Linked DNA regions of Homo sapiens: regions 2 and 3 are each linked to region 1. Evidence: fine-mapped expression QTL. A gene starts in region 1. Each other region holds a variant in brackets. All regions are shown on one strand. Distances are from middle to middle.

The links. PIP is the estimated chance that this variant, and not a neighbour inherited with it, causes the effect.
Region 2: its variant is fine-mapped to the expression of RWDD3 in whole blood (TOPMed, PIP 0.97).
Region 3: its variant is fine-mapped to the expression of RWDD3 in vagina (GTEx, PIP 0.96).

What each region holds. Positions count from the first base shown.
Region 1 is chr1:95,231,475-95,238,177 of GRCh38, reverse strand. It overlaps RWDD3 (RWD domain containing 3), which reads right to left and starts at 3,968. Exons shown (of 4, transcript NM_015485.5): 1 at 3,863-3,968. The coding sequence starts at 3,947. The region is part of intron 7 of TLCD4-RWDD3 (TLCD4-RWDD3 readthrough); the gene reads right to left. RWDD3-DT (RWDD3 divergent transcript) reads left to right here and starts at 4,196. Exons shown (of 4, transcript NR_125949.1): 1 at 4,196-4,478. RefSeq lists silencers at 3,508-3,687, 3,898-4,227.
Region 2 is chr1:95,184,839-95,191,541 of GRCh38, reverse strand. The region is part of intron 6 of TLCD4 (TLC domain containing 4); the gene reads right to left. The region is part of intron 6 of TLCD4-RWDD3 (TLCD4-RWDD3 readthrough); the gene reads right to left. The region is part of intron 3 of RWDD3-DT (RWDD3 divergent transcript); the gene reads left to right. Among named protein-coding and RNA genes, the nearest start is that of RWDD3-DT, 46 kb to the left of the region's middle. The variant G/A (reference allele first, on the strand shown) is at 2,664.
Region 3 is chr1:95,340,297-95,346,999 of GRCh38, reverse strand. No RefSeq gene overlaps it. Among named protein-coding and RNA genes, the nearest start is that of LINC01650, 8.5 kb to the left of the region's middle. The variant C/T (reference allele first, on the strand shown) is at 3,580.

The sequences.
Region 1 (6,703 bases):
CTTTTTTATCTGTAAGATTCTTTCCAGAAGCACAACTCCCACATATAACGAACATTGACTATGGCCACATAATCTGTGTCACTCAATTTCCTCATCAGGAAAATGGTGATACAATACCAATCTCACGCCTCTCATAGATCCACACATACATGCACAAACACTCCCCTTTGGGATTGTTCTGAACATAAGTTGGCTCACACTCATATCTTTTCTCTGGGTGCTCATTATCGCTCTTTCTGCACAAGTATTTCCTTGCTTTCCAAGAACTATTTTCCTGATGCAACAGCCCCATCTCTCTATTAAGGAGCATGATGCAGTGCAAAGGCCCATACACCTGGAGCCTGGTGGTTATTTAACCAGTCTGAGTATCAGTTATCTTCTCTGTGAAGTAAGACCAATAGTACCCCTCATCAAGTAAGATGCATTTCAAGTATCACGTACATGGCAGGTCACCCCATCAAATCTGGCACCTGGACTGACTACAATGCATACAGAAAAACAGAATATCCCTAATGTGGTCTATCCACAGCCCTCCCTTGTAGATGGGAGTGTAGGGACTTACTTAATTTGCACCCCTAAGAGATGGTTATGCCTCTTACTAGAAGCTTACTATAACCATTGTAAAGAGATCAAAAGGCAGATAAAATCCCCTGAAATTCTCAGCATAAAATTAGTCCAGCTAAATGGAATCCAATTATTTAGCTTCTTCAATCTTACGGCCTTAATAGTTGATCCTTGGGTTAGCAGTCTGAGTCTTGCTGGGTTATCTTGTTACCAGGAATGCAATTCCTCTGCAACATTCTCCTGATTCCAGTGGCAAAAGGGAGAACCTTATTTGGGGGAGGCCAGAAAAGAACTAGTGTTTAGAGTGTTCTGGTATCAAGTGTGTATCCTCCAACCCAAACTGACAGTGATGGTGAGTGGTAGCCAGCAGTCTGCTGCATGTTTACTGTGGTCTGTTAAAGAAGTCCTTACTTTGTAAAAAGATGTTACGAAAATCATGGGAAAAAAAAAAAAGGCCTTTACCTTACCCCCTTAATTCCCACTTGTGAACATCAAACATCCCCATTTCAATCACTGAATTATTCTACCTCTCAGCAACAAAATGTCCTAAGTTGTTACACTGAATTCTTTTATAATTCAATTACTTATTGATGCCAGAACATGGAATTAAACTAATTAGGAGGCATGGCTTGAAAGTCATGCTCAATTTAACAGCAGATAAAGGGTTCACAGTGTTCTCAAGATTAAGAAACTGTTTTCTTTCTATGCTTACATTTTTGGGTTTTCTCTGACCCTTCAGCAGTGTTTTATGCTCAGCTGTGTACTAATGACCCAGACCATTACCAGTTCTTTAAGGTGTGATGGGAAATTGCAGGTTCATTTTTCCAGGATATTCCCAACTGAGCCATAATAAAGGAATTTAGGAAAACTGATGATCTCTTCAAATAGCTGCCTCAGGCAGAAGTAATTATCAATAAAGAGAACAGTGGAGACAGAGAGGGAGATGGTGAAGAATTATCCAATCAGAAGAGGGATGACAAGAAAACACTAAAAGTGAGTAAACCCCTTCATATGGATTTTAAACAATTGTTTCAAAAGATACAAGTCAGGCTGGGCACTAAAAAGAAAGCAACTCCATTACACTAATAGGTGCATAGTGCCTGGAACATAACAGTGCCCAATGAGTGGATGTGAGTGGATGAATGCAAGAAGGAATAAATGGAAGTCAACTCCCTGTCCTTCAGTGAATAACACACCCAATGGATATCATGAAGGATCTTAATCTTAAATGGTTTTCTCACAACATCCAGCCCATTTTTAGACTACTTTTTTTTTTTTTTTCTGAGACAGAGTTTCACTCTTGTTACCCAGGCTGCAGTGCAATGAATGGTGAGATCTTGGCTCACTGCAACCTCCGCCTCCCGGGTTCAAGTGATTCTCCTGCCTCAGCCTCCCGAGTAGCAAGGATCACAGGCGTGTGCCACCATGCCCAGCTAATTTTTGTATTTTTAGTAGAGATGGGGTTTCGCCATGTTGGCCAGGCTGGTCTTGAACTCCTGACCTCAGGTGATCTGCCCGCCTCGGCCTCCCAAAGTGCTGGGATTACAGGCATGAGCCACGCGCCAGGCCTAGACTACCTTCTTAAAGGTTAACCAATTTATGGTCAGAAAGCCAATTTTAATGGTAGCTACAATATAACATTAGAACGATAAATCTCATGCCCCAAACATGTACATAATGTATCTGAAAGCTAAGTGAAAACTGAGTCACTTTCTCATACATGGCAGTGTTTTTTCTTTTTTTTTTATTCAATAGAAGCCACATACAGGGACAGTAAGTTTCACCTATCATCAAAAAATAGTCAAAAGAACCTCTCTACACTGTAAGCTCCTAGAGGCCATGGGTAGCGGTGTCTCTGAAACCCTGACAAAGTCTGTAGGCAGCAGGGATTCAATAAATGTGGGCTAAATGACTAATAAAGCCCTCAAGAGCTTGTTTAAAAAAAAGTATCAGAAGGCCAGGCACCTGTGGCTCACGCCTGTAATCCCAGCACCTTGGGAGGCCGAGACGCGCGGATCACGAGGTCAGGAGATTGAGACCAGCCTGGCCAACATGGTGAAACCCCGTCTCTACTAAAAATACAAAAAATTAGCCAGTCATGGTGGCAGGCGCCTGTAGTGCCAGCTACTCGGGAGGCTGAGGCAGGAGAATGGTGTGAACCCAGGAGGTGGAGCTTGCAGTGAGCCGAGATCGCGCCACTGCACTCCAGCCTGGGGGACAGAACAAGACTCTGTCTCAAAAAAAAAAAAAAAAAAAAAAAAAGGCCGGGCGCAGTGGCTCACGCCTGTAATCCCAGCACTTTCGGAGGCCGAGGCGGGCGGACCACGAGGTCCGGAGATCGAGACCATCCTGGCTAACACGGTGAAACCCTGTCTCTACTAAAAAAAAAAATACAAAAAATTAGCCGGGCGTGGTGGTGGGCGCCTGTAGTCCCAGCTACTCGGGAGGCTGAGGCAGGAGAATGGCGTGAACCCGGGAGGCGGAGGTTGCAGTGACCCGAGATCGCGCCACTGCACTCCAGCCTAGGCGACAAAGCAAGACTCCGTCTTAAAAAATAAAAAATAAATAAAATAAAATAAATAAAATTCAGCCAGGCATGGTGGCACGCGCCTGTGATCCCAGCTACTCGGGAGGCGGAGGCTGCAGTGAGTCCAGATGGATCCACTGCACTCCAGCCAGGGCAACAAGAGAGACTCCACCTAAAAAAAAAAAAGTATCAGAAAAGCAATCAACTTGGAAATAGAATGCAGATAAAGTTGAGGTTGAGCACTGGATAAATGAAAAAGTTCAGTCAACAAACATTTACCTACTACCTACCAGGTGCCTGGAGTCATTACCAAACAGACCCTGCCCTCCTGCAACTTAAGACCTACAAATACCCGTGTAGAGTTAGAACCGGGGAGTGCTCTCGGGGGGGCCTAGGGCATAGTGCTTAGGAAGGACACAGAACAACGAGGGGGCGTCAGCACAGGCTTCTTTATAGGGTGAGATCTGAGGGGTGGGAGGCTGGGGGAGGGCCTGGGGGTGCGCACGCAGGGGCCCCCGGCTCCGGGAGCGGGACCGGCGGCAGAGGCCCCAGTGGGCCGCGCCGCTCTCTTAGTGTTTCTGGGGTCGCCTCACACTCCCGCCCGCTGCGACACCACTCCGGCCTCCGGGCGTGTCATTCCATCATTCAACTAACCCGGTCCCCATACGTGGGCCCAGGCGGGGTGCCCAGGCTCCGTGGTGGGGAGGAGACGCAAAGCGAACGCGGGTGGCCCCTGAGGGCGCCCTGTCCCTCCCGCGCGCGGGTAGTCACCTGAGCGGCTCAGCACCTCCCACTCGTGGGGCCTGCAGAAAATCGCGGCCAGGACCGAGAGCTCCTCCTGCACAGGCTCCGCCATGGCTGTGGGCCCCACCGCCTCAGCGCTTCCCCTTCCGCTGCCGCAGCCGCCGCCTCCACCGGCCAGGAGCAGCACTGCCCGCGGCCACCCGGGGGCGCCCCGCGCCTCCGCAACCGGGCGGGACGGGGGCGGGGCGAGACGGAGCTGGGGCGAAGCGAAACGGGACGTGGGCGAGGCGAGTCCGGGCGAGGGTCAGGGCAGACGGGGCGGGCGGGGCCCTTAGAAGTTCCGCCCAGAAGCTCCTGCTCAGTAACTACAGACGCGAAGCTCAGCCTCTCGGTTTGGGAATTTTCTTGGAGGCCGAGGCCCTGCGCCTCTGTCTGCACCCAAGGCGACCGCCCAGCTTACCCCCGGCTCTTCTGAGCACAGGGAGGCCTCCCAGCAAAGCCTGAACCCTCTAAGTTTAGCTGCAGGCTTCGAACCCCGACCGTCCCCGCCGAGCCTTGGGCTGCTGAGGTGGGGATGAACTGGGCGAAAGACACTTGGGAGTTAGGAAGAAACAAACAAGCAGGGAAGTGACCAGGAGACAAGGTGAGACTTTGCCCGGCTCAGGTCTGAACTGAGTGTTGGAGATAACCACAGTTAACAAAATAAACAAAATTATTCGCCCCCGTGGAGCTGTTAGCAACCCTGGTGCCTGGGAAGCCTGGAAGAGGCTCGGGTTAGTAACAACCTCCAGGATGCCCTCCGAACTGGTACTGGCGCCGGGACTCTAGACAAGGTCCAGATTCCCGGGCCCTTCCCCTTACGGGTGCAAAAAGGGAGGGTCAGGACCTGCCAGTCCTGGCTTCAGGATGTTGACTGGACGGACCTGGACTCATGGGAACTGTGCGCCAAAGTCCTGGGAGCAAAGTGTCATAACGCTCCTCGTTTGTCTCTTGCCTTCACAGGAGACAGCCCTGCTGCAAGCGGCCAGTGGGAATCCTTGGCCTTTGGGGGTATGATCCAAGAATGTAAACGCTAGCTTTTCAGTGTTTTCGATTTCGTGATATTCAATGCATACAATACAATGTGACTCTTGAAGCTTAATAATAAAATTATCATTCTTGAGCCCAGCACCTAAATTTTAAAATGTGAGCAATACCAATAGGGTAACAGAATAAGCAATCCATTCTGTTTTGACTATAGTGAACAAGATTACAAGACTTATCTGCAGTTAGGTCTGTCTCTCGGATGTTTGCCTGGTCTTTTTGCTGTTCAAATAACAGTTTAAAATTTGGCAGTCCCCACAAGCAGCTGGTCTTGCTCATGGAGTTCTCACAACTTTTGTTTGTATGAGAAATCACATTTCATGAGATAAATCTGGGAATTTAGGTTGTTAGGCAGTGACTCCAGTCACTGACCTACGGAAGTCAGAACAAAGTTGGCTGATTTTAAAACCCTGCATCCATTCACCATTACCATTCCCGCTGTTGGTAAAAAAGGAATCTGATAAAGGAAAAGATACTGGCTTCCCGGAACAGAAAGGAAACCTAACAAGATGGACTGCAGGGAAAATGCTTTTCAGAAGATGCCATGGGATTTCAGTGACCCCGAGTAATTAGGAGCACATAATTGGGAAGATGAAGGCTTATTTAAATGCAGTTATCTCTGATATGGCCAATTGGCTTGAAGAAAAAAAAAACTCCTTTATTTCCAAAATAACAGACGTTCCAGCAGTTCAGTAGGTTCATAATTAACTGCTAAAGAGATTGAACAAAAGAATACGTTTTTAATTTAAAATATTACTAAGTTATTTTAATTCGAAATCCAGTGTTACTATGAAAAGTCAAACAATTTGGTTTTTGACTTATTTATTGAAAATAATCTATAAAATAGGCTGGGCGCAGTGGCTCATGCCTGTAAGCCCAGCACTTTGGGAGGCCGAGGCGGGTGGATCACCTGAGGTCAGGAGTTCGGGACCAGCCTGACCAACATGGTGAAATGCTGTCTCTACTAAAAATACAAAATTTAGCTGGGCGTGGTGGCAAGCACCTATCATCCCAGCTACTCAGGAGGCTGAGGCAGGAGAATCGCTTGAACCCGGGAGGCGGAGGTTGCAGTGAGCCGAGATCGCACCTTTGCACCACTCCAGCCTAGGCAACCAAGCGAGACTCCGTCTCAAGAGCAAAAAAAAATCTATAAAATATTCAAATAGTTTTTACTTATTTTTAATTTTCCAAATTCACTATAAGTGAGATGAGTGAAATAACATGAAGAGCAAAATTACAGCTGTAGGAAGGATTAGGAGGCAGTTGCTAAAGCCTGCTGTCAGCAATAGGTCCATGAAAATTGATTAAAGAGTACATCAATCTATGATTTAAAATTTTCTTGTCAATAGGTTTCTTCTTTGCTCTTCCTTTCTCAGTTGATTTCTTAATCTGCTTTTCATACCTCATTTAGCATGTTTAAATAAAAAAGAAGTCAATGTGAATGTCTTTTAAATTGACACTATCCTAAGGCACTGAAGTCCCATGAATAAGTTTCTGCACTCTGACATTTGGAAATAATCATCTCAGAGACTGCATAATGTCAGCTTGATATTTCTTGCACTGTGAAAATATCAGCTACATGTCAAATCTCTAAAGTCTACCTTAATGTAATAAGTTTCCTCGTATTCACAGGCTACTGAAAATTCAAAATATTTAAATGTAGGATGAATGTCTACAGTTAGAGCATTGTCTACCTCCATCTCTCTCTCTCCCTTCTCACCCTTACACACACAAAGGTGTATGATTTGCTAGAACAATTATTATTTTTACAAGTATTATTTTTAC
Region 2 (6,703 bases), 47 kb after region 1:
TGAATTAAAGAAACATCACATTTATAGTGCATCTCTGAGGATTAACCATTTTTATTTTAGTTTTTAAATTTTAAAATTCAGTGAAGGAGGAGCAAAGGGCCTAGAATAGCATACGCAATGCTGAAAAAGAACAAAGTTGGAGGACTCACACTACCCATTTCCAAGACTTAACTATAAAGCGACAGTAATCAAGTCAGCATGGTGTTAGTGAAAGATCAATAAACCAATGGAAGAGAAAAGAGAGCTCAGAAATAGACCCACACAAATATACTCAACTGATTTGTGACAAAAGCATAAAGGTAATTCAGTGGAGAAAAAAAGTCTTTTCAACAAGGTGTGCAAAATTGTATATCAACATCGAGAAAAATGAAGTTAAGCAGAGATCTCACACCTTACACAAAAATTAACTCAAAATGGATCATAGACCTAAATGTAAAATGCAAAACTATAAAACTTCCATAAGAAAAAAGGAAAAAAACCTGTATGATCTTGCATCTGGTGGTGCTATTTTAGATACAACACCAAAAGTGTCATCCATGGAAGAAAAAGTTAGTTAAGTTGGACTTCGTTAAAATTAAAACTTGCTCTGCGAAAGACACTGTTAAAGAAAAGACAACCACACACTAGGAAAAAATATTTAAAATATACATGTATGGTAAAGTACATGTATACAAAGTACACAAAGAATTCTTAAAAGTCAACAATAAGAAAACAACCCAATTAAAACACTGGTAAAAGAGCATAACAAAAACCTCATCAGAAAATATATATAGATGAAAACTAAGCATATAAAAAGATGTTCACTATTGTCATTAGGAAGTGCAAATTGCAGTGGCTCACGCCTGTAATCCCAGCACTTTGGGAGGCTGAGGCAGGTGGATCACCTGAGGTCAGGGGTTTGAAACCAGCCTGGCCAGCCAGGCGCAGTGGCTCACCCCTGTAATCCCAGCACTTTGGGAGGCTGAGGAGCGTGGATCATCAGGTCAGGAGTTCAAGACCAGCCTGGCCAAGATAGTGAAACCCCGTCTCTACTAAAAATACAAAAATTAGCCAGGCATGGCGGCGGGCACCTGTAATCCCAGCTACTCAGAGGCTGAGGCAGAGAATTGCTTGAACCCAGGAGGCAGAGGTTGCAATGAGCCGAGATCACACCACCACACTCCAGCCTGGGCGACAGAGCAAGATTCCATCTCAAAAAAGAAAAGAAAAGAAAAGAAAAGAAACCAATGTGGCCAAAATGGCGAAACCCCATCTCTACTAAAAATACAAAATTATCTGGGTGTGGTGGCGCATTCTTGTAATCCCAGCTACTTGGGAGGCTGAGGCAGGAGAATCTCTTGAACCTGGGAGGCAGAGGTTGCAGTGAGCCGAAATCGTGCTATTGCACTCCAGCCTAGGCAACAAGAGTGAGACTCTGTCTCAAAAAAAAAGAAAAAAAAAAAAAAGAAAGTGCAAATTTTAGCAACAAGATACTATGCACACCTATTAAAATAGCTAAAATCCCAAAAAATGGACAATAACAATTGCTGGCAAGGGTGTGGAACAAGAGGAACACACATTCATTGCTGCTAGGAATGCAAAATGGTACAACCACTTTAGAAGACAGTTTAGCAGGCATAAAACTAAACATATTCATAGCACACAAACCAGCAATCACATTCCTAGGTATTTTTCCAACTGATTAAAAAATGTATGTCCACACAAAAGCTGCATACGTGTTTACACCAGCTTTATTCATAACTGCCAACAACTACAAGCCATCAAGATGGACAAACATTGTAGTACATCCATACATTGGAATACTACTTAGCAATAAAAATAAACTATCAATGTAACAGCAAGAATGAATCTAAAGTGCTAAGTAAATGAAATCAGTCTGAAAATCCTGTACACTGTATGATTCCATTTATAGACATTCTAGAAAAAGCAAAAGTATCAAGACAGAAAACAGAATAGTGGTTACCAGAGTTTCGGAAAGAGTGGAAGGGGATTGAGTAGGTAAAACAAGGGATATTTTAGGGTGGTGAAACTGTTCTGCATAATACTATAGTGGTGGATACATGACATTATGCACTTATCAAAACCCACAGAAGTGCACAAAAAGTGAACCTGATGTATGCAAAATTTTAAACAATCAATTAGGAGGTTGGGGGATACCAGGATGCAATGCAAACAGTGACAAAAGAATCTTAACTGTTACAAATGCATGATATAACATCCCTGAAAGGAGTAAGGTAGAAAGAGGTGCTGACCTAAGTGACTTCAAAGATGGAGACTATAAGACAAAGGCAAAAGAAACTGTATACAGGCAATGTACTCTAGTTCACGCAAAAACAATTAACAATTCTGAAACCATTATACATGTATATCAGGACTGAACAAATAAATGGATTTGTTTGATGAAAAATAGTGGGAACCAGGTTTCTCATTGTTGGATAGAAAGGTTTCAGACAAGCAAGAGGCGGCTAGATTTTTTCCATGAGATACTGGATTAGATTTGGAAACAGTGAACTATTTTAGCTTGATATAGCTATAAATGCATACATACAGAAATAATTATAGATAGGTGTATACACACAGGTCAGCATATTTCCAGGTTCTGTCAGCTAGGAGCCCATAGAAACAATGATGCCTCAGTAACAATGAGCATACATGGCATCCAC[G/A]TGTTGGCTTCTAATACCACTCTCCAATGAAAGAAACTAGGGTTCCTTGAGAAATACCTGATTTGAGGGCTGGGAACAGAGAATACACAATATACAATATGAACCTGTTAGAGTATCATTTAGGGCCAGAGAGCAAGAAAGTGCTCAAAAAACAAAATGACGTTTCTTTATGTCAAAGGAACACAGAAACCAACCAAATGAGCTCTCCAGGTCCAAAACTCACAATGTGAGCAACAAAATAAATAATGTTGTATTGGATTATAACCTAAAGTATAAAATAAATATCCAGAAATCAATACTGATATAAATGAATGAATGAATGAATAGGGGAGAAGAAACAAATCTGTTCCGAATAACTGCAAATAATTTATGTAGAAATCACACCTTCAACAAGGTAAAGCATAAACCCCTAGTCCTCAAGTGTGGGCTGTGTATAGTGTAATGTATTGAACTGTTTCCCACTAAATTCTTTTTTTTTTTTTTTTTTTTCTGAGACGGAGTCTCGCTCTGTCGCCCAGGCTGGAGTACAGTGGCGCGATCTTGGCTCACTGCAAGCTCCGCCTCCCGGGATCACGCCATTCTCCTGCCTCAGCCTCCCGAGTAGCTGGGACTACAGGCGCCCGCCACCATGCCCGGCTAATTTTTTGTATTTTGTAGTAGAGACGGGGTTTCACCGTGTTAGCCAGGATGGTCTTGATCTCCTGACCTTGTGATCCACCCGCCTCGGCCTCCCAAAGTGCTGGGATTACAGGCGTGAGCTACCGCGCCCGGCTAAATTCTTATGTTGAAGCCCTAAAGCCCCAAAGTGACTGTATTTCAAGATAGGTCCTTTAAGAAGGCAATTAAGGTTAAATAAAGTAACAAGGGTCAGGCTCCAATCCAATAGGACCAGTGCCCTTAAAAGAAAGGAGAGACCAAAGTTCTCCCTCTTCCTCCATGCACACACGGAGAAGAGGCCATGTGAGGACACAGAGAGAAGTTGCCTCCTGCAAGAAGAGGAGAGGCGCCTCACCAAGAACCAACCCTGCAGGCACCTTGGTCTTGGACATCCGGCTTCCAGCACTGTGCAAAAACACATTTCTGTTATTTAAGCCACCCAGACTGTGGCATTTTTTATGGCAGTCCCCAACAAACTAATACACACAGTGACTTCCTTCCAAAGTGTACAGTATGGAAGGGGCAGGGGGAGGGCAGGTGTAAGGAATAACTTTAAAATGGAGAAACCGGACAAACAGTACCTCAGGTGAACAAGCTTAACATCAACAATGATTAAGTCATGTTCACAGCATGCAGTCCTAATATGTGTGATGAGAATGATACTGTCCCTCGGTGGTCTTCCTCCCCAAACCCCATATCCCCAGTGTAATCATGAGAAAAACATCAGACAAACCCAAATTGAGGGACAGTCTACAAAACACCTGATCAGTACTCCTCAAAACCGTCAAGGTCACCAGAGACAGGACATCTGAGAAACGATCACAGCCAACAGTAGCCTAAGCAGACATGAAACTAAATGTAGTGTGGCATTCTGGAAGGGATCCTGAGACAGAAAAGGGGCACTGGGCAAAAACGAAAGAAATCCACACAAAGTATGGACTTTAGTTAACAATAAGATATTAACACTGGCTCGCTAATTGTTAACAACTGCACCCACTGATCTATGACGCTAACAATAGGGGAAGCTGGGTGTGGGGTACACAGGGACCCTCTGTATCAGCCTTCTGATTTTTCTGTAAATGTAAAACTATTCTAAAGATAAAAAGGTTTTTAAAAAGTCAGTGAACATTCGCTCTATTCCACTTTTTCTTCCTTAAAAAAACTGCCTTGCCTAATTTTACATCATTTTAGAGATCAAATTGCAAAGGCAGTAAAACATATCTGTGTATCTTAATATTCAATTTAACTGAATTAGTCATGATTAAGCTAAAATTGTTCAACATAAGAAACTAAAAATTAATAGTTAAAAAGCTTGAAAATATTTTATTGAGTGATTAAAATATCAAATAATTTATATAGGATGAGAGATGTATTACATTTTATAAGTTTATGTAGGATAAAAGGGCTAAATTATCTAAGACAATTAAGAAAGACTATTTAGATAGCAATGGCTAAATTAATGAAATAATACTGCAAATAGGAAAAACATCACTAAAGCAATGACATCCACATTCTAATCCAGGTCTCTGATCCTCAAGCCTTCTCTTCTCCAAAGACTTCCCTTCTCCTTCAGCCATTCATTTCTTTGACTACATGGCAGCCTTGGAATTACTCAAGAAATATTATACCTCAGTGAACCCATTCCTCTCTAATCATAAGCCTTCCATATTTCTCTTTACCCAATCTCACCTAAACTACTTCTTTGACCTTCAAATCCTCAAATCTCTCTCTATCAGCCTCCACGCTTTCACTTCCTTTCCTACCTAATCCAAACTCCAAGTTAACTTCAGAACACACATCAGCACCCTCCGTTCTCTTGCCACTTCATCTATCTCACCCACTCTGCTGATCTCCAGTGTTTCATCAAGCCAGCTTTCCTTAGGCAATACAGAATGACGTGAAGAGTAGCTAGGGTGCTCTGCAGTCAGGCCGCCTGGGTTGAAAGCCTGGTTCTGCCATGGAGCAACTGTGTGGTCTTAGCTCTCTCTGCTATTCACCTCTATGTTTGTTCTATCTCTATAAATGGGGATAAATGATAGTACCTCCTTTGTACTATGAAGCTGCCATGACACAGAGTAACAACTCCCCCATACTGTAAATTCAATAAATATCATTACCCACCAATCTTTATTAAGATAAATGGCACAAATATAATTTTAAAAGATTTGAACTTCAGCAGAATTCTCAAACTGGCTCGACAGTCCTTTCATTTCACTCCATAGTTCCCATATAATTGCTTCCAAACCTGTCCTGCCATTCAAGTCAATTCCCTTCCTCATTCACTTTTGTCTCTCAATCCCATCAGAGCATCTGGTTTCTTACTGATATACAGTTAATTCTTGAGCAACACCAGGGTTAGGGGTGCTGACTCCCCACACAGTTGAAAATTGCTTGACTTCTGACTTGCCCAAACACCTGATTGTTGACCAGAAGCCTTACCAATAACATAAAGTCAATTAACATTATTTTATGTTATTTGCATTATATACTATATTCTTATAATAAAGCTAGAGAAAAACGTTATTTTCTAGAGAAAAGAAAATCATAAAGAAAAGAAAATATATGTACTATTAAGTGAAAGTGGATCTTTGTAAAGGTCTTCATTCTCGTCGTCTTCACGTTAACTAGCCTTGAGTAAGAGAAGGAGTTGGACTTGCTGTCGCAAAGGTGGCAGAGGTGGAAGAGGTGACGAAGTTGGAAGGAAAGGCAGGCACACTTAGTGCAAATTTTATTGAAAAAAATAGATGTGTCAGTGGACTCATACAGTTCAAACCCATGTTGTTCGGGAGTCAACTGCATTAGAGTCCATCAACCATGAATTCCTTCCACTCTGACCCCAAGATCTCAAAACTTCTTCTCAGGCACCTTTACCTTTCAACTCAGAGGAGAGTCCTCATCTTCTAGGATTTATTCAATAAACTACCCTGCCTTCCCTTGTTCTACCAAGTTCCCCTTCTATAAATTGATTCTTCTTTTACCAACGTGCTCAATTCCTGCTAATCCAAAAACCTCCCCTCCACTGCTTCTCTTCTTTGCCAGTTTTTTGAAAGGAGAGTCAGACATATTCACAGACATTCTTACTACACTCCCAAACCCAAGACGATATGACTGCAACTCTACAAAAGAAATTAGTCAGTTACATATGTGCACATGTACCCTAAAACTTAAAGTATAATTTAAAAAAAAAGAAAAAAAAAAAGAAATTGGTCACCCATAGCTTCCTCATAACCATAGTGTTAGCTTCTGCCAATTTTTCCATCTAACCAGTGCCTGGTCTTTAAACCAGTTTCTTTCAAAGGAAAGAACCCAAATATTAACTCAAGGTGAAATAATATTTACATAACTGTCCTCCTTACCTCCCTCTTCCATGGCAGAAAGATCAC
Region 3 (6,703 bases), 110 kb before region 1:
GACATCCCTGACATATCCAAAGAATAGCTGCACATTTAATCCCTCAGCCTCCTTGCATTACCCATTAACATGCCTGCTCTGCTACACCAGCACAAGGTTCTAAGTCTGTCACACTTGGCTTCTGCTTAAGTCTGTTTGGAGTGATGACAATCAGGGTCCATACTGGCTGGCAATCCCTTCCACACAGCTGCACTAAAGGAAACCTCCAACAGAGTAGGAGTGTTATTAGAGGCGAACCAGCCCTCAGTTTGCTCTTTTGTTAGGTCCCAATTAGGCACAGGCAAGAGTCAATTATGATGGTGTGGGGAAGAGAAATATTTCAGGTAAGAACTCCAAATTACATATAACCTCCACTGAGGCAAGCTGACCTTCTAGGAACAGTGTTGCTGTGCTGGTACCTCAGCCACGCAGACTGTCAACTAGCCAGTCCTTCCTATGCACAAACCTATGCATCTGATGACCATTTCTCAGTAAACAAGTGTACTGATGACCATTTCTCAGTAAACAAGTGTATTATTGAAAATGGAGAACTGGGTTGAGGTGAAATGAGAAAGGGGGAGTCATCCCCATCAGCCTGCTATGTTTCCATCACTGGTATTGGCTGTTCTGTTCCATCCTAAAGGGGAACTGCTCTCTTCTGCATCATCATGTCATTTTTATTATGCCAGCAAATGATAAGGCAAAAACCCATCATCACAGACCAGCCTGTGAAAAACTAACTAACAATATGAAGTTGAAAATGAAGAAGAAAGTCTTGCATTTCCTTTCACCTGTAGGGGAAAAAAATGAAGCCCAAGGCAAGCTCCTCACCATTCAGCAGTCCATCTTACTTTAAAATATACGCATGCAGACTGAACAGGAAGATTTCTGCTATGCACGGCAATTGTTCCATTTTCTATATTTCATAACCTGCAATTTTGAAGCCATGCTTGGTACACACGCTTGTAAAATAGTCATATCAGATAAAAGCAGAGGGATGCTAAACTATTGGAAAATAAATCAAATTCTCAGCAAGCCGTTATATCCATCATGTTGCAGCAAGCGCACGTATAGTTTAAGCTGTGCGCGCACAGTCTATCCATTGTAATGATTTGGGGTCAGGATCCTGCCACAAGCATTTAGCATTCACTAAGAAGTAAACCCAGGAGTGTAGCAGGGAAAAGTGCCGAGCTGTAGCTTTTGGTCCTGGAAGTTGCCCTCGATGTATTTGTTTGAGTATAGCCATTGTATCTAAATAGCAAGGCAGAGAAGAATTAACACATGCATAGAACGTGACTATTTACAAGGAGCTTGCATGAGCATTATCTCACTTGATCCCCAAAAGAAACTCAGAAGATGAATGGAGAAAAGCACTCGCATGTTACAGTAGCACAAAGACATTTGGAAACATCTGTGAAATGTTGAGTAAAAAATCTGAAAACCCATCCACACCCACCCCCATTCAAAACTAGGGTGGGAGTGTTAGAGTGATGTTTCAGCAGTGTCTTGTCCTAGAACCAACATATTCACATTTGACCATAACAAATATTCCATGTCTTTGATTTTTTTTCTCTTAACACAAACATAAGACTAGTTTATTAGACAATTGCACAAGATTTTGTGAAGCCTTATGTAAGCACCAAATATGAAAATTATTCAGAGAGAGAAATCAGAACTTATAAGTATCATTAAGCAAAAGAACTACACATTACACTGTACACTAATATGGATTATTAAAAATATTTCAAAATGTTCAATGTAAAAAAGTAGAAAAATTTAAAAACCACGGATTTTACTTAAAAAAAACATAAAGCTTCAAATTCCATGTCTGAATGTCACAGAAAAGCCAGTTTGTTCACAAGGCTACGTAGTAAGTCTTAACCACATCAATATAGCACTCTCCCAGAAATGAATGTCCAACAATTAGCCTCCAATTCCCTCAAACCTCCACTTCCTTGCAAGATGAATTCTTCCTGATTCTTCTCTTCCCTGCTTGCCAAGACCCCAAATTTGATCATCCAAAGCATTTTCTTTCCCCTGCTTTCCACTCCATAGTATTTGTCCTTCCCCTTTACCATTAATTGAAAACTCAACCCTGGAACCATGCTGTAAACCATGCATTTCACCTCTGGAGAGGATCACAGGATTCCATAATCTGGCCCCTGTATTAATCAGCTTGACTGCTACAACAAAATATCATACACTGGGTAGTTTAAACAGCCGACATGTATTTCTCACAGTTCTAGAGGCTGGAAGTCCAAGATTGAGGTGCCAGCATGACTGGGCTCCTGGCAAGGGCTATCTTTCTGCCTTGCAGATGACTGCCTTCTACCTGTGTCCTCATGGCCACAGAGAGGAAGCTCTGGTGTCTCTTTCTTTTCTTACAAGGGCACTAATCCCATCATGGGGAAATCCACCCTTGTGACCCTATCTAAACCTAATTGTTTCCCCAAGGCCCCATATCCAAACACCATCACACTGTGGGTAGAGCTTCAACATATGAGCCTTGAGAGGACAGAAGTCAGTCCTTAGCAGCCCCATTTCCAATTCCTGATGTCATCCTCTAAATGGCCTTCAATGCTCTGCAGCAGTTCTTCTACTAATTCCTGTCTTATACTCACTCTCCCAAATTTATATATGAAACCAAAGAATTGCCCTGGCCGTAGCTGAGGTTATATAAATACAATGTTACTAATACACTTGTATGAAAGAATAGAACATCAAAACTCAATGTATTGAAGAGCCCACACAACAAACTTTTCATGATTCTGAAAATCCCTTCAGGGGCTCTCCTAAAGTTCCAAAAATTCTCCTATAATTAAAATTGGTTTTCCCCAAACCTAGCATTTAATATAAATAAATATTGACTTCCTTGTCTGTTTTTACAATTTTGTTCTTGTTTGCTATTTTAGCAACTGTTTTTCTGTCTACCTTACAATATAAATGTAAAATATTTCAGGTACATTATGGATGAAAAAAATTGTTTAGAAATATAACCATATTCATAGTATTTCTTTGGATAAGTGCTTTCTGAGTTTCAAACGAGCAAGTTTTGAAATAAACATAAGAAATAAATAATCTGTAAGTTGGGGACTATTCTATAGGAAGCATCATATTTTCCCACATAATATTTAAGATTTGAGGCAATATAATTAAATTTAGAAAATATTTTCAAATTTCATAAGGGGAAGGGAAATATATACAAGGATTAGATGATAACAAATACTAATGTGTAATTACTGATTCTTTATGAAAGTGGAAACTTCGCTGTAATATCAAGCTTCCAAATATGAATTGAAGAATGAACCTGTTCAACTTATTAGAAAAGTTGACACTAGCTCAAAACAACTTTTTAAAAAGTGTGTTATAAGAACAAACTACTAATATTTCTGTAGCATTTTGAACCACGAAAGGCAATCAATCAAAAGGAGAAGTATAACAAACACGCCAGAAAGATCTAGAGATCATGTTCCCTTAAAGCATAGATGTGATCTGGTGGAAAACTTCCAGTTATCAATCTGAAACTGTATGACAATTCCAACAAATTTTACTGTCTTGTAGACCTCCTCTTGCCCAGAGCTAGCCAAGATAAGCCATGGG[C/T]TCACCTGTCACATTAACCTTAAGAGACACGTCAGGTCCTGCTGAAGAGGATATTCAAATCAATCCACTATTGATTCCTACACCCTGCTCCTTCCAACCCACTGTCAAGTTCTAAGAAACTACTAGAAGATCCAAAGTCATCTTGGGAGGGAGTGCCCTCAGCACTGGTTAACAAGTGATACCTGATCACCATTCACCTAGTCTTTTATTTCTACAAATTTCAACTCCAGTCCTTAGAAAGAAGCAGAACCAGGGGATGAGCACCATGAACTGAGTTGTTCTGAATCCTGAAAAATTTTCATTATCCATTTTGAAATCATTTTGCCCCAAACCTCAGGTACATATCAAACTAGGAGACTGAACTGAGAAGGAGACAAATTGAAAGAAAAGGTCTGAGACGCATGGCAGGCAAGAGATGTTTGGACCCTTTCAGCTGCTCCATCCCTTGAAAGCTTTGGCCCCACTGGGCTAGCAGCACTCTTACCTTCCTGGAGAAAAGTGCTTCTGATCCATTATTTTAGAGAATAAGAATATCACTTGTCATTTCCCTTTTTAAAAAGTTATTTATAAGTTAGTAAATTAATAAGTAGTTTATATAGCAACTTTAGTCAAATGGGTTTCACATCATATAACAAGTCTTTGAATTTTAGAATTTGAGAATTTTTGAATATGTCTTCTTTGCGATTATTGTAGTCAAATGTAAAATATTTTCCCTACACACTGAAAAATATGTCATGTAAATTATGTTAAATGCTTATGGTAAATATCTGCACTGGAAGGAAAAATCTGTTCTCAAAGAAATTAGGGCCTGAAACTTCATACAGATTCAATAAATACATGCCAAATGAATAAAGTGATAGTGTATATTAATTTGTGCTAAACCTAATGCTACATCTATACATATTTTCTCTTTATGATATGATTTTGCTGTGTCCCCACTCAAAGTGTCATCTTGGATTTTAATCCCCATAATCCCCACGTGTCAAGAGAGAGACCAGGTGGAGGTAATTGAATCATAAAGACGGTTTCCCCCATGTTGTTCTCATGATAGTGAGTAAGTTCTCACGAGTGGTTTTATACGTGTTTGGTAGTTCCTCCTGCTTTCCTTCTCCTTCCTGCTGCCTTGTGAATAAGGGGCTTTGCTTCTCTTTTGCCTTCCGCCATGATTGTAAATTTCCTGAGGCTTCCCCAGCCATGCTGAACTGTGAGTCAGTTAAACCTCTTTCCTTTATAAATTACCCACTCTTGGGCAGCTCTTTATAGCGTATGAAAACGGACTAATACAAATCATTTGGGTGCTGTTCTTATTTTATGAATGAGGAAAGAGTTATTTGTCCAAGGTTACAAAGCTGATCAATGATGTCACAAAAACTCAAGAAGAAACTATATGTAGTTGGGATGTCAACACAAGACCAATGTCCAGGAACATAGGTTCTAGCTCTGGCCAGGCCACCAGTTTTCTATAATCTTGAATATGATTCTTGATTTTTCTTATCCTCACTTTCTTTATCTAAGGTTCTCTTCCAGTTCTAAAATTCTCTAATTCTATAAATTTATGCCATCTTGCACCTGCATTTCAGTTAAAGATCCTTTCAGACAAGTAGCTGGATGAAATCCTCCCAGATGTGGTGTAAAACCACACAGTTCTTCTATCGTGCAACACTCTCGTATTAGTCATGCCTTGAGTGCACTACCTCGATTTTCTAATCCATGCAAGTGCTTAATTTGTTGTATGTAATTTGTTCTCTTTCAAGTTAATATCCCTGTATTATAAAAATCAATAAACACACATTGAAAATAATTACAAAGATATAAACCTCTTACTTTGCAAAAATACGTTGTAATGCACACATTTTTCTACTCAGCAACATTTACTACGTGTTAAAAATGATGCTCTGTGCAATCTTAGGCAGGAGAAAATGTTTCCTAGAGAAATTTCAAACATCTACATGAAAAGAAGAGAATACGCATAATCAACATAACGATCTCAAGAATGGAATCAACAGAAATAAAATCACCTCCTTTAGTTCTTCTGGGAAAATAGGTAGCTAAAGATAAAATCAATGATAGCAAGAGGGGTGGCTTTGTTAGCCAGCATCAACTAACTGCTGTTCAGTGGGTGCATTTGTTTATGGCATTATTACTAAAGCAATGCAGGATCAATAAAATTGTTTGAGGGCCTTGAATTTCTTACTCTATATAACTACTGATGCCAACCCAGGGTGGACTAGTAAGGTGGGCAGTTTGGCAAAACAGGCCCATTTAACTGGAGCTTTTCTCACAGGCTCTGACCACTGCCTCTAAGGAGACCTTAAAGTAAGACCCCAGGGGATTCAGGCATCCACATTACAAATTGTACTTCATGAGACACTCATTGAGGTCAATTAACTGTGAGAAATATTGCATATCTATCCTTTTCTGAATATGTACAAAGCAGATGAGCTTATTAAAGTCTTTAAGAAGTCCTTTGTAAAGATACATGCTTAAATTTGTTTATATCACATTCTCCGAATCCATTGCCCGTAGGACCCCTCTTATCCAATATCTATTAACACCTGACAAAGTATTCCAGGGAACATGTTCTCTTTAGCCACTGCTAGGGCTACTGATTTCATAACATGAAGACTGAACAAGAGAAAGGAGAAAAGGGACTACCATTCATGGATCACTTACAAGGGGCCTCACTTTGCTCTCAGGGTTTTGAATGCACAATTTCATATAATCCTCACAATAATCCTGTGAAATAATATCATATTATCTTCATTTGACAGTTAAGGGAACTGAAAATATATGTGAAATTGACTGGGAAAAAGTACTTACAAAATAAGTGAAAAAAAAAATCAGATTATAAATATGTTTATAAATATATGCATATATCTATTATATATAGTCTAAATATTGTTAACTAGCAGCCTGTAGGGATTTTTAATTAAAAGACATTGGTTTCCCACATTTAAAACTGAGGAAGTTTCCAATATTTTTAAAAACCAGAAGCTTTAGTAATGAGGGGACCCTTCTTTTGGGGAACCTCCCTCTAATGCTAAACAGTAGCTGTCTCTTTAAGTGAGGTTTGAAATCTCCACTTGCCCAAATTCCATCTGGCTCGCTTAACTCACACATGCCA